Linked DNA regions of Homo sapiens: region 1 is linked to region 2. The links come from fine-mapping of genetic effects on gene expression. A gene starts in region 2. The other region holds a variant in brackets. All regions are shown on one strand. Distances are between the middles of the regions. Region 1 overlaps ACOT7 (acyl-CoA thioesterase 7). Region 2 holds the start of GPR153 (G protein-coupled receptor 153).

Region 1 (5,360 bases), 89 kb before region 2:
TTTTTGTATTTTTAGTAGAGATGGGGTTTTGCCATTTTGGCCAGGCAAGTCCTGAATTCCTGACCTCAAGTGATCCGCCCCCGCCTCGGCCTCTGTAAGTGCTGGGATTACAGGTGTGAGCCACCGCGCCCAGCAGCCAAATATATTTCAATTTTTTTTTTCTTTTGAGACAGCATCTCACTCTGTTGCCCAGGCTTGAGTGCAGTGGTGCAATTGTGGCTCACTGCAACGTACTCTTCCCAGGCTCAAGTGATCCTCCTACCTCAGCCTCCCTAGTAGCCACTGCGCCCAGCCTGTATTTCAGTTTTTTAATAGTAAAGAGGGGCCGGGTGCGGTGGCTCACACCTGTAATCCCAGCACTTTAGGATCACCTGAGGTCAGGAATTTGAGACAGCCTGGGCAACATGGCAAAACCCTGTCTCTAGTAAAAATACAAAATTTAGCCAGGCGTGGTGGTGCATGCTTGTAATCCCACTTACTCGGAAGGCTGAGGCAGGGGAATCGCTTGAACCCAGGAGACGGAGTTTGCAGTGAGCCAAGATCATGCCACTGTACTCCAGCCTGGGTGACAGAATGAGACGCTGTCTCAAAAAACAAACAAAATAGTAAAGAGGAACATGAAGTGCTTTCGGTACCCGTGTCTTTATTAGAAATGGGATCACGAACGAGGTCAGGAGATCAAGACCATCCTGGCTAATACGGTGAAACCCCTTCTCTACTAAAAAATGCAAAAAATTAGCCGGGCGTGGTGGCGGGCGCCTGTAGTGCCAGCTACTCGGGAGGCTGAGGCAGGAGAACCCAGGAGGCGGAGCTTGCGGTGAGCCAAGATCGTGCCACTGCACTCCAGCCTGGGAGACAGAGCGAGACGCCGTCTCAAAAAAAAAAAAAAAGAAATGGGAAAACGAAGTCTCCAGTGAGACGCAGCAGCTTCCCTGGCTCCCTGGCTCTCACCCCTGCCTGCCTTTAGACAGAGGCAGTCATGACCCTGTCCTGGGATGGACACGGTTGGCCTTGGCCAGGCCATGGGGCGGGGCCTGAGAGAGTGACAGAGCTGTTTATGGGTCCTGGAGGCTGGCTGGATCCAGCGGTTCCTGAGCTGTTTGGAAGGAATGAGGGAGGTGGGGAGGGGAAGAGGGAGGGGCCAGGTGTGGAGCAGCTGGTGGTGGTATGCAGGATGGGAAGGAATCCCAGCTGAGGCTGGGACTCACTGGCTGCCCTGGCTTGGAGGGAAGGTGTCTGATTTGGGGAAAGGGAGAAGGGGTAAGTGAGTTGGGCTTTGAGCCTTGTGCATTGGAGGTGACAGCACAGTCCCCAGGCAGGAGTCAGGTCCTGTAGGGGAGAGGGTTGTGTCTGACCTTGAGGGCAGGGGCTGGCTTCCTGGGTGGTCAGTTGGGGAGTTAGGATGGTCCTTGGTGCAGGACCCAAGGTGCCGAAGAAAGGCGGCCAGGCCCGTGGTAGCCAGCTGGCGTGCGGTCTGCAGTTCCTGGCATGTACTCCTGATGGCACAGCGCCAAGTGCCGAGTCCTCACTTTGTTGCCAGGTGGCTCCAGGCTCTTCCTCGGGGCCTCAGGCACTGTCCCTGGTCTTCTGTCTTAAAGGCTACCCACATATCTGTCCTGTCTTCAGTGCCCACCGCATGAAAGCACTTCCTCCGCTGCTCTGCAGCCCTTGGCCCGCGTCTTCTCTCCCTGGCCTTGTGTCATTCCTGGGGGCCAGCCTGCTGTGTGTGGCTCCACTTCACAGACAGGCAAAGTGAGGCCTGCAGCAGTCATTCAGGCTGCTCTGGAGGCTGGCTCTGCTGCTCCTGGGAAATGCTGGGCTGATGTTTCCTCACTGCTCTAGAACCAGGAGCTGGGCCCTGCTCTCCGCACCCACCCACAGCCTTGGCTAGTGCCCCCAGGACAGGCCTGTGTGGAAAGTGACCCTCTGCCCGCTGCAGCTGGTGCGGGGAAGGCCCTTCCTACTAAGTGGAAAACAAAGGGAAGAGGCTGATAGAATCATTTTGTGACTTATAATTGGCTACCTCATAACTCAGACAAAAAAAGCCCAAAAACCTTTCATAGAGTAAGTTCAATTTTTAAAAACAAAGGTATTTTAAAATGAACACTTGAGAAGCCAAATGAGGTTTCTTGTGTGCTCTGGGGATCCCCCGGCCACTGTGTCACGCCGTGCCGGCCGCTCCACAGGCAACTGTCCCTGAGCCTCCCACGGAACCTTGGGCCCTGCCTGACCTCAGAGCCAGAAGCCAGTTGGCCTAAGTGGGCCCTGGTTTGCATAATAGACTCTCACCCAGGGTGGAGGGGTGACACTGGGGATGGGCAGCT[A/G]TGGGTTGCTGGGGGACATCTGTGGTCATTTGCTCTAGAAGTGGCATCCTGTGGCCAGATGGTGGGTTTCTTGGAGCTTCCAACCAAGTTGGCTAAATACTTACCAAAAAGGGAAAAATTCTCCTAGTTAACGTGTGGACTATCTACTGTGTACCATGTGTCTGCCAGCGCTGTTGTGGAGTGAGTGTGCGATCTGCGTGATCTCCCAGTTAGGCGAGGCAGTGTTGTCATTCTACCCATTGTACAGATGAGCACATGGAGGATTGAGGGTTCTGACAGCTTGCCCAGGTTACCTAGCAAGTAAGAGCCAGAGCCAGGAACGCTCTTGGAGAGTGACTTGCTCAGCCTTGGAGCTGCTAGAGAAGCAGAGAGGAGATGCAGACCTGGGGAGACGCTGCTCCTGGGGCCCCCACACTGTCCAGCAAGGCTGGGCAGGCTACACAAGCTGCAGGTGGATGCTGGACCCTGGACCTGTGCCCGCTGCCTGTCACTCGTCTCCAGGCCTCGGCCTGTGAAGGCGGCTTTCATCAGCTGGGTGCTGTCTGGGAAGGTGCCAGGCAACTTGCCCTGGCAGGACTGCCAAGCTGGCTTGTTGGGATTCCAGAGATTTCGTGGAGCTCCCACACTACCGGCTGCTCACGGCAAGGATGAAGTTGTTCCTCTTTGGGGAAGTGAGGTGGCGTTTCCATTCCTTCTGACCTGGGAGGCTCCTTGCCTTCAATCCAGGGCCTGATTCCACACTGCCCCCGGGACCCACAGAGGAGCTTAGCGCGCAGTGGGCAGGCGCTCACCTGCTGACAGGGCCTGGGGTCTTGAAGCTGCGACTCATGTTTAGTTCTCAGAACAGCCGTGGCTACCTGGCTTCTCTGGGACTCCTGACGGGGGTGGTGGTGGTCCCGGGAATTTGCTCCTAGGGTCACAGTCTGTGTGTTGGTCACTGGGAACCCCAAGGGCTGATCACCACCTCCCTGCCCTGTGGCTTTGCTTAAAGGTCTTCACCATCAGCCCTTCCCTGCCAGGGCAGTCCAGGGACATGTGGCTTCAGGGGGAGAAAGTGCCCCTCTGCCCTCCTTCTCTCTCATGGAAACAGCATCTCAGGGCCCCTTCCGTGGCCTAGCAGGTGGCACCCCACCCTGACGAACACACCACCTAGGAAGAGCCCAAACATTGGGAAGGTTCTCTTTCCTCCGGGAGCCATTGAGCCCTTTGGGGACCTTCTCCCCTCCTTGGATTGTCACTGTTGCACAAATGGCATCCTCTCCAGAGGCCTCATCCTGCTTCTCCTCTGCCCTAGGATCATGCGGCCAGATGATGCCAACGTGGCCGGCAATGTCCACGGGGGGACCATCCTGAAGATGATCGAGGAGGCAGGCGCCATCATCAGCACCCGGCATTGCAACAGCCAGAACGGGGTAAGGGTCTGGGCCCCATACCTCTGGGCCCTGGAGGCCGCACCAGTGTGAGTTCAGGACAGGAGTTCCCCGGGGAGCCAGGCCTGCAGCCTTCCCTCCCCTTGTGCACTGGGCCTTGGGAACTGTGGGAGAAGTGGCCCAAGTATTTCTGCACCGGACCCTCAGAGCTATGCTTGGTTTTGGCCTCAGCCAGGAGGTGTAGGAACCCACCAGAGATGAAGCGTCAAGCAAGCTGACAGGCCCTCCCTCCACCACTCCCCGCCATGCCGAGTCCCCCGCCAACCTGGCCCTGATCAGAAGCATGCCCCGCCTCCGTGGGGTGGAGTTTATTGTGATGGCCAACAGCTGAGACATAAGAGGCCAGACAGCAGATGTAGGAGAGGTCCCACCTCTGCCCTGACCAACCCTGGTGGCCATGGCACCATAGCAAGTGCCGTGGCTCTCTGTGACTTGGCCACTTCCTGGCTTTGAAGCTCACAGGCCTGGTACCACTGTGCCCACAATGGGAGCAGCTCTCCACCTGCCCCAAAATTGTGTAGCTCGGGAGGGCCCTGTGACCCTAAAGCTGGGGACAAGGGGCACGGTGTCTAGTGTCAACCTCAGGGCTGCTGTAGGACATTCAGCCATCCCCAGCCCTGGGGAGGGGACATTTTCTCTGAAGGGCGGCTGTTGGGGGGAAGCCAGCCCTTGGGTGCTGAGGACAGGGCGTCTGCCTTGGTGCCGCAGCTGCAGCCTCTGCACTATGGGGCTCGGTCAGCACACCTTCTGTGGCCTCCAGGGAGGCAGAGAAGAGGAAGACTCAGCCCCAGCTTGGAGAGTGGGAGTGTGAGGTGCAGGTCCCCACCATGGGCACGGGCATAATGCCACTCTATCAAGAGGCCAAGTGGAAGCCACGTCAGAGACCAGGGACCAGCGGAGGCACTGTGAGCTCTGAGCCACACTGTTGAGATGCAGGAAGTGGCTGCTGGCTCTGTCAGCCTGGGCTGCCGGAACTAAGACCACAGCCTGCTGGCTTGTGAACAATGGAAATGCATTTCTCACAGTCCTGGAGGCTGGAAGTCCAGGATCAGGGCGCCGGCAGATTTCGTGTCTGTTGAGGGCCCATTTGTTTCCTGGTTCATAGATGTCACATCACTTCCTGTGTGTCCTCGCTTGGTAGGAGTGGCTCTCTCAGGCCCTTTTATAAGGACACTAATCCCATTTGTGAGGGCTCTGTCCCCATTCTCTCATCACCTCCCAAAGACCCTGCCTTCTACTACCATTCCCTTGGGGGTTAGGATTTCAACACAGGGATTTTGGGAGGTGGGGACAGCCATGCAGAGCATGGCACATGCATTCAGCCTGGAACAGTGGGTAGGGTGTGTTTCAGTGGAGGAGTGGAAGCTGTGTGTGTGTGCGTGTGTGTGTGTGTGTATCTGCGTATGCATGTGTGTGTGCATATGTAGAATGAACCAAGCCACAGTAAGTGCGGATGGTTGGACGTGGATGTGGGGGATGTCGTGTGGTACAGGTTCAGGAGTGGGTTTGCTGGCAGTGCCTGGTTTAGGAGGGGCTCGCTGGCTGGGCTGGGGGTAGATTGATTCTTTGGACCCGAGGCTCCGGTGCAGCTCAGTCACGTTCAGAG
Region 2 (5,360 bases):
GGATGTGGGCTCAGGGCCACGCTGCCTGGTGGGAGTGCCAGCACCCCACAACCCCCCTGTCTGGCTTGCAGAGGATGCCGGCTCTGAGCCTGTGTGGCTTTCCTATGAACAGGGTGGGGCTGCTGGGAAAGACTCAGCGAGGTGATGGTGTGGGAAGAGCCAAATGTGGCCTGGCTCAGCGTGTGGGAGCCCCACCCTGACCCAGCCTCTTGCTAGAAACTGCCTAGACACCCCAAAATCCTGTCTGAAGGAGCCCCCCAGCTGGCGCCAGGACTCTGTGCCTGACGTGGAAACTCCCCCAGCCACTCAGGCAGGAGTCTGCTGGGATGGCTTATAGGGCAGGGGTCTGAGGGACAGCACGAATGTGTGTCAGTGCCGTTGGTGTGAAGCTGTGGGCATACGTGTCACTGACATATCTGTGCATGTGCGTGTGCATCTGTCTGCATATCTGTGAGCACGTGTGTGGTGAGGGTATCGGTGTAGCAGGGTTGATCTGTGCATCTGGCCCAGCCAAGGCCACTACAGGGACCAGGACCCCACCTGCATCCATGGCTGAAAAGGAGGCCCTCCAATCAAGCACACCCAGAAGTGGCATCTGGGAGAATGTTCCCAATTCAGTCTGTCCCTGAAGCCCCAACATCTGTCCTGCCGCCTGGAGAAGACTGGCCCGTCAACAGCTGCGGCCTCGCACAAGGCTCCCTCTGGCCCCTGGAGAGCGAGGACTCGGCTCCAGATGTGCAGAAACACCAGCCAAGAGCTTGGGAATCTGTCCCGGGCCCCAGTCACGGCTGACGGGGTTATTTCCTGTCTGGGAGGGGGTTGGAGGTGGGAGGGACAAGCTCAGCCACATGAAGCTTCTGCCACGCCACCATGCCCCTTGGCCCCCCGGGGCTGGCCTCAGCCAGCCTCGGCCCCCAGCTCCACCCATGACCCATGCCAGAATGGTGCCCTGGGTTCAGAGCAATGAGGAGGCCACCCTTCCCAGCTAGCAGAAGGCCCAGGGCTGGCCACAGCAGTGCCTGAGCCCAGGGGCTCACTGAGGGGACCAGTTCCCCAAAGCACCCACACCCTTCACTTGAAGTTGGGCCCCGCATCAGACTCCCTAGTTCAGTCCTGGCTCAGCCACTCATCCGTGTGGCTTTGGGCAAACCAGGCACCTGAAAACCGCCTCCCAGGGGCACCGGGCACTTTGCAGCAGAACCCAGCACAGCACGAAATAAGCCAGGGCCCCGGGGCGGCCATCAGAGGCCATCTCCCACCTGCCCTAGAGCCAGCTGAGGCCGGGCAGAGGCACTGGTCCAGGCAGTGGGTCAGCTGGGCTGGCAGAGGGGAGCCAGGCCCAGACAGAGGCATGGCTCTCCATGGCTGTGTGTGCAATCTTAACCGTGGTGTTTCTAAGCGGCATGGCTCTCGGTGGCCATGTAATTAAGTGTGGCGTTTCTACCGTTTCACCCCGAGTCACAGGCGAGACACTTAGAAACACCACCCTTGATTACAGCTGCCCTGTGCCAGCCTCCCACTGCTGGTGGCCTATTTATAACCAGGACCACCTGGAGGGGGAGCCAACCTGTCCACAGAGGGCTCACTGGGGACACTGAGGGCCCTGGCTGCCCGAGAAACCACAGGGAGTATAGGTGTGCATGGCCCCAGATTCCCCCTTGCTCAGCCCCACACGTTATTGCGGGGCCTTTCTCTACAGACACTCCTCTTTTTGTCTCATGGGACGGACCCTAAGACCCATCCTGGGCCCCCTAAAAGCTGCTCAGGGACCTGGGGTGTGGGGACGGTTTAGGCAGGTGCAGGCTGTGGAGCAGCCCTGCCCGGACTGGGCAAGCTCCAAGCATCCGTTTTGGCTGCAATTGGTTTGGGTCTCCTCCTGGTCGGGTGCCTAGTTTCCTCCAGACACAGGGGTGCCTAGTCATGGATGTGTCCCAGAGGCACGGAAGGACACTATGCCAGGCAGCCCCAGAGGCCTTGTGCCCATTGTGTGTGTGGTCAGGTGCTTTCTAGAAAAGACAGGCACGATCCTCAGGAGGCGTCCTCTCCAGGGCCCCCATCAAGAAGCAGGAGGCTTTCCGCCTGCATGGGGCCAGCTGAGGCTGTCAGTCTGTGGGTGACAGCCTGTGCTCTATGAGGAGTGGTGATAGCATGAGGGCTTGGGAGGGAGGGGCGGAGGGGCGGGAAGAATGGGAGGAGGGGAGGAGGGGAGTAGGAGAAGGCTTCAGGCGCTGGGCTGCAGACCCTGGCCTCTCCCGGCTGGGCGGTGGTGCTCAGAGTTTCAGAGAGAACAATTTCTGAGCCTGTGGGGGTGGCGGGGACCACTCGGCAGCCCGGTGGCCCGTGCACTTTATTCCCTCAGTGGACCCCCCAGGCCCGGGGAGCAGCGTGAATCCGTAACTGGCCCAACCTTGCCCCTCGCTGCCCCTGCTTCAGACTGGATTCCCGGTTCCTAGAAGCCGCTGGCCATGCGTCCCTTGTCCTCTCCACGCCCCGCCCCGATTGTTCATCTTAGATGCGGCTTCCTCCAGGAAGGTCTCCCTGAGCCCCAGCCCTGGCCCCAGGTTCTCAGTGTCCATTCCTGCCCCAGCTCCCTCTGGCCCCCGGGCCCCCAGAGCTCCGGGCCTGGGTCTTGCCCCGGCGTCCGAAGGCGGCGTCCGGAGTGTGCACCGAGCCGAGCTGGGAGCCAGGGGCGCGGCGCTGTCAGGAGGCGCCACCAGCCCAGGGAGGCTCGGGCCGGCCGCGGGCGGACGCGGGGACACGGGTGGGCTGCGTACGGACGGACTGACGGAAGGACGGACGGGCTGACAGACCGACAGACGGCCGCGCCTCTGAGCGGGCGGGGGCGGGGCGGGCCGAGGGGCGGTGCGGAGGCCCCGGCGGAGACATGCGCCCTGCTCCGCCCCCCGCCCCCGGCCGCCCGGCGCAGCAGCGGAGCGGCGGGAGCTGAGCGAAGCGCGGCGGCGGCGGCGGCGCCTAGGGGAGGGAGGGGCGGCGGGGCCGAGCCCACCTAGCGGAGCGCGCCGGCCGCCGGTGGCCGCCGCCAGCATGCCCCGGCCCGCGGGCCGCTCCGCCGCCAGCCACCCCCGCGGCCCTCGGCGGCCTGCGCTCGGCCCGGGGGCGCGGGAACCGCAGCCGGAGCCGGAGGCGGGAGCAGCGAGCCGGAGCCCCGGGCGCTCGAATGCAGGGTGAGCGTCGCCGCCCTGGCCCGAGGGCGGACGGACGGGAGGACCCCGGCGGGAGGACTCGGCGGGAAGGGAGGGGGCTTTCCGCGCCCTATCGGTCGCGGGGTCCGTCCGAGGGCCCACGAGCGGCGCTTAGCGCTGGCACCCCCCCAACTTGGGGACCTTCGGGGTAACTTCCCTGGGGCCAGCCCCTCCCTCCGTCCCCCTGCATCGGGGCCTAGCAGCGCCGCCCCCTGGGCTTCTCAGGGGACGGGGGCGGGGCGCGGTCTGGGGATCCTGAGCCCGCCCCTGCTCGGCGCAACCCAGAGGGGTCCGGGGGCCGCAGTCCCGCCAGGTTTCCCAGCCTGTCGCTCGGACGCGCCCTCGGGGTGGGGCAGGACTCGGGGCACCCACTGGGGACCAGCAGGCGAGAGCACGCGAGTCGGAGCGGGGATTGCGGGGGGGGGGGGGGATCGGAGCCCCAGGGGGTTGGGACTGTAGGGGCGGGGGCTGGGGGGGGCGTGCCGGAGATGTCCAGGCCTCGCGCTGCGCGTCCCTCCCTGGGCGACGGCCAGGCCGGGCCCCGTGGAACACATCGGCTGCAGCGCGGGCGGAGACCGGCGTGGGGGCGGAAGCCGGGGCGCAGCCAGAGCCCGGGGAATCCTTTCAAGTTCTGGGTTCTCTTTGTTGCGCAATGGGGCCTCGGGGCCGCGCGGCCTCATTGGCCCGGAGCTGTGACGTCACGCCCCGGCCCCGCCCGCATGTCTTGCGGAGGGAGGCCTCATGGCCCGGGTGGGTCCCAGGCTAGTTGCACCTGCAGTTGGCCCTGCAGTGGGCGGGGAAGTGGGAAGCCGGGTCCTGAGATGCTGCGGAATGCTTTAAGTGCCCTGCAGGAGAAACTTCCCAGCAGAAGACAGGGCTTTAAGTGCCCTGCAGGAGACACTTCCCAGCAGGAGACTGGGTCCCGTCGGCACTGTGGGGAGCCCAGCCTGGGGTCTGGCCCTAGTGGCCGCTCCATTCTATGAAGAATGAACAGAAAGGGTGCAATCCGTGGATCTGTGGTCACTGACCCAGAGCCAGAGGGACACTTTGTTCCCACACAACCAGTCCTCTGTCACTCTGCACTTGGAACCCGGTGTCCACGCCCTGTCCCCCAGGACGTTCCTCTCCCATGCCAAGACTACAGTGCCCAGGAGTGCCTGGCCCCAAACCCAGCCCTGACACTATTCTCTCCGTGTTGCCCTGAGCTTCTGCCTGAAGTGTTCCCATCTGCAGTGTGGGGACGGTGAGACCTGCCCTGCAGACCTGAGGCTCAGAAAGACCTCAGCTCTAGGGACAAAAAAAAAAAAAATGCCCTTTTCCCCAACATTTTAGGGTTTGAGAGGCCAGGACTTTGGTGTCAGGCAAGTGGAGTTTGGATCCTGGCTCAGGCAAGTGCTGGCCGGGCAAACAGCTTTACCTCTCCCTGCTTCTGCTGGACAAACTTTACAATGGGGATGAATTGTGGGGGCACTCACTGGAGGAGCATGCCCGTGTGCAAGAGGATGCACGTGCCCCTGCCCACAGACCTAGAGCCTTTTTCTTTTTAAGACAGGGTCTCACTCTGTTGCTCAGGCTAGAGTGCAGTGGCACAATCATGGCTCACTGTATCCTTGACCTCCCCAGGCTCAGGTGATCCTCACACCTCAGCCTTCCAAGTAGCTGGGACTATAGGCTCACACCACTACGCCTGGCCAATTTTTTTATTTGTTGTACAGATGGGTTTTCCCCATGTTGCCCAAGCTGGTCTCGAACTCCCGGGCTCAAGCCATCCACTCACCTTGGCCTCCCCGAGTGCTAGGATTACAGGCATGAGCCACTGCACCCTGCCTTCAGACCTAAAGCCTTTCCCAGCAGTAATGCAGCATTAGGCTAGACGAGAGGAAGAACTGGCACCGCGAAGGGCTGGGCTGGTTGCAGCCTGTGGCTCTTTCCTTACCACCCTGCACCAGTAATCAACACATGGACAGGGTGGGCGGGGCCAAGGTCACGGGGCTAGACAGAGCTTGTTCACGGGGCTAGACAGAGCTTGTTGGGCATCTGAGGGAAGGCCTCCCAGTCTCACAGCCGAGGCTGCCTTGGGCAGGTAGAAATAGATGCTGACCTGCTAGGTGCATGCTGAGTCCACTTTCCTATTTGAGAGCGTAAAGACCACTGGTG

Evidence for each region. PIP is the estimated chance that this variant, and not a neighbour inherited with it, causes the effect.
Region 1: its variant is the best candidate, but not a certain one, in a credible set for the expression of GPR153 in whole blood (TOPMed, PIP 0.71).

The regions. Positions count from the first base shown.
Region 1 is chr1:6,348,125-6,353,484 of GRCh38, reverse strand. It overlaps ACOT7 (acyl-CoA thioesterase 7), which reads left to right. Exons shown (of 9, transcript NM_007274.4): 2 at 3,619-3,736. Among named protein-coding and RNA genes, the nearest start is that of ACOT7, 43 kb to the left of the region's middle. The variant A/G (reference allele first, on the strand shown) is at 2,325.
Region 2 is chr1:6,258,650-6,264,009 of GRCh38, reverse strand. It overlaps GPR153 (G protein-coupled receptor 153), which reads left to right and starts at 2,912. Exons shown (of 6, transcript NM_207370.4): 1 at 2,912-3,185. RefSeq lists silencers at 2,673-2,992, 3,173-3,342, 3,363-3,522, 3,693-3,882.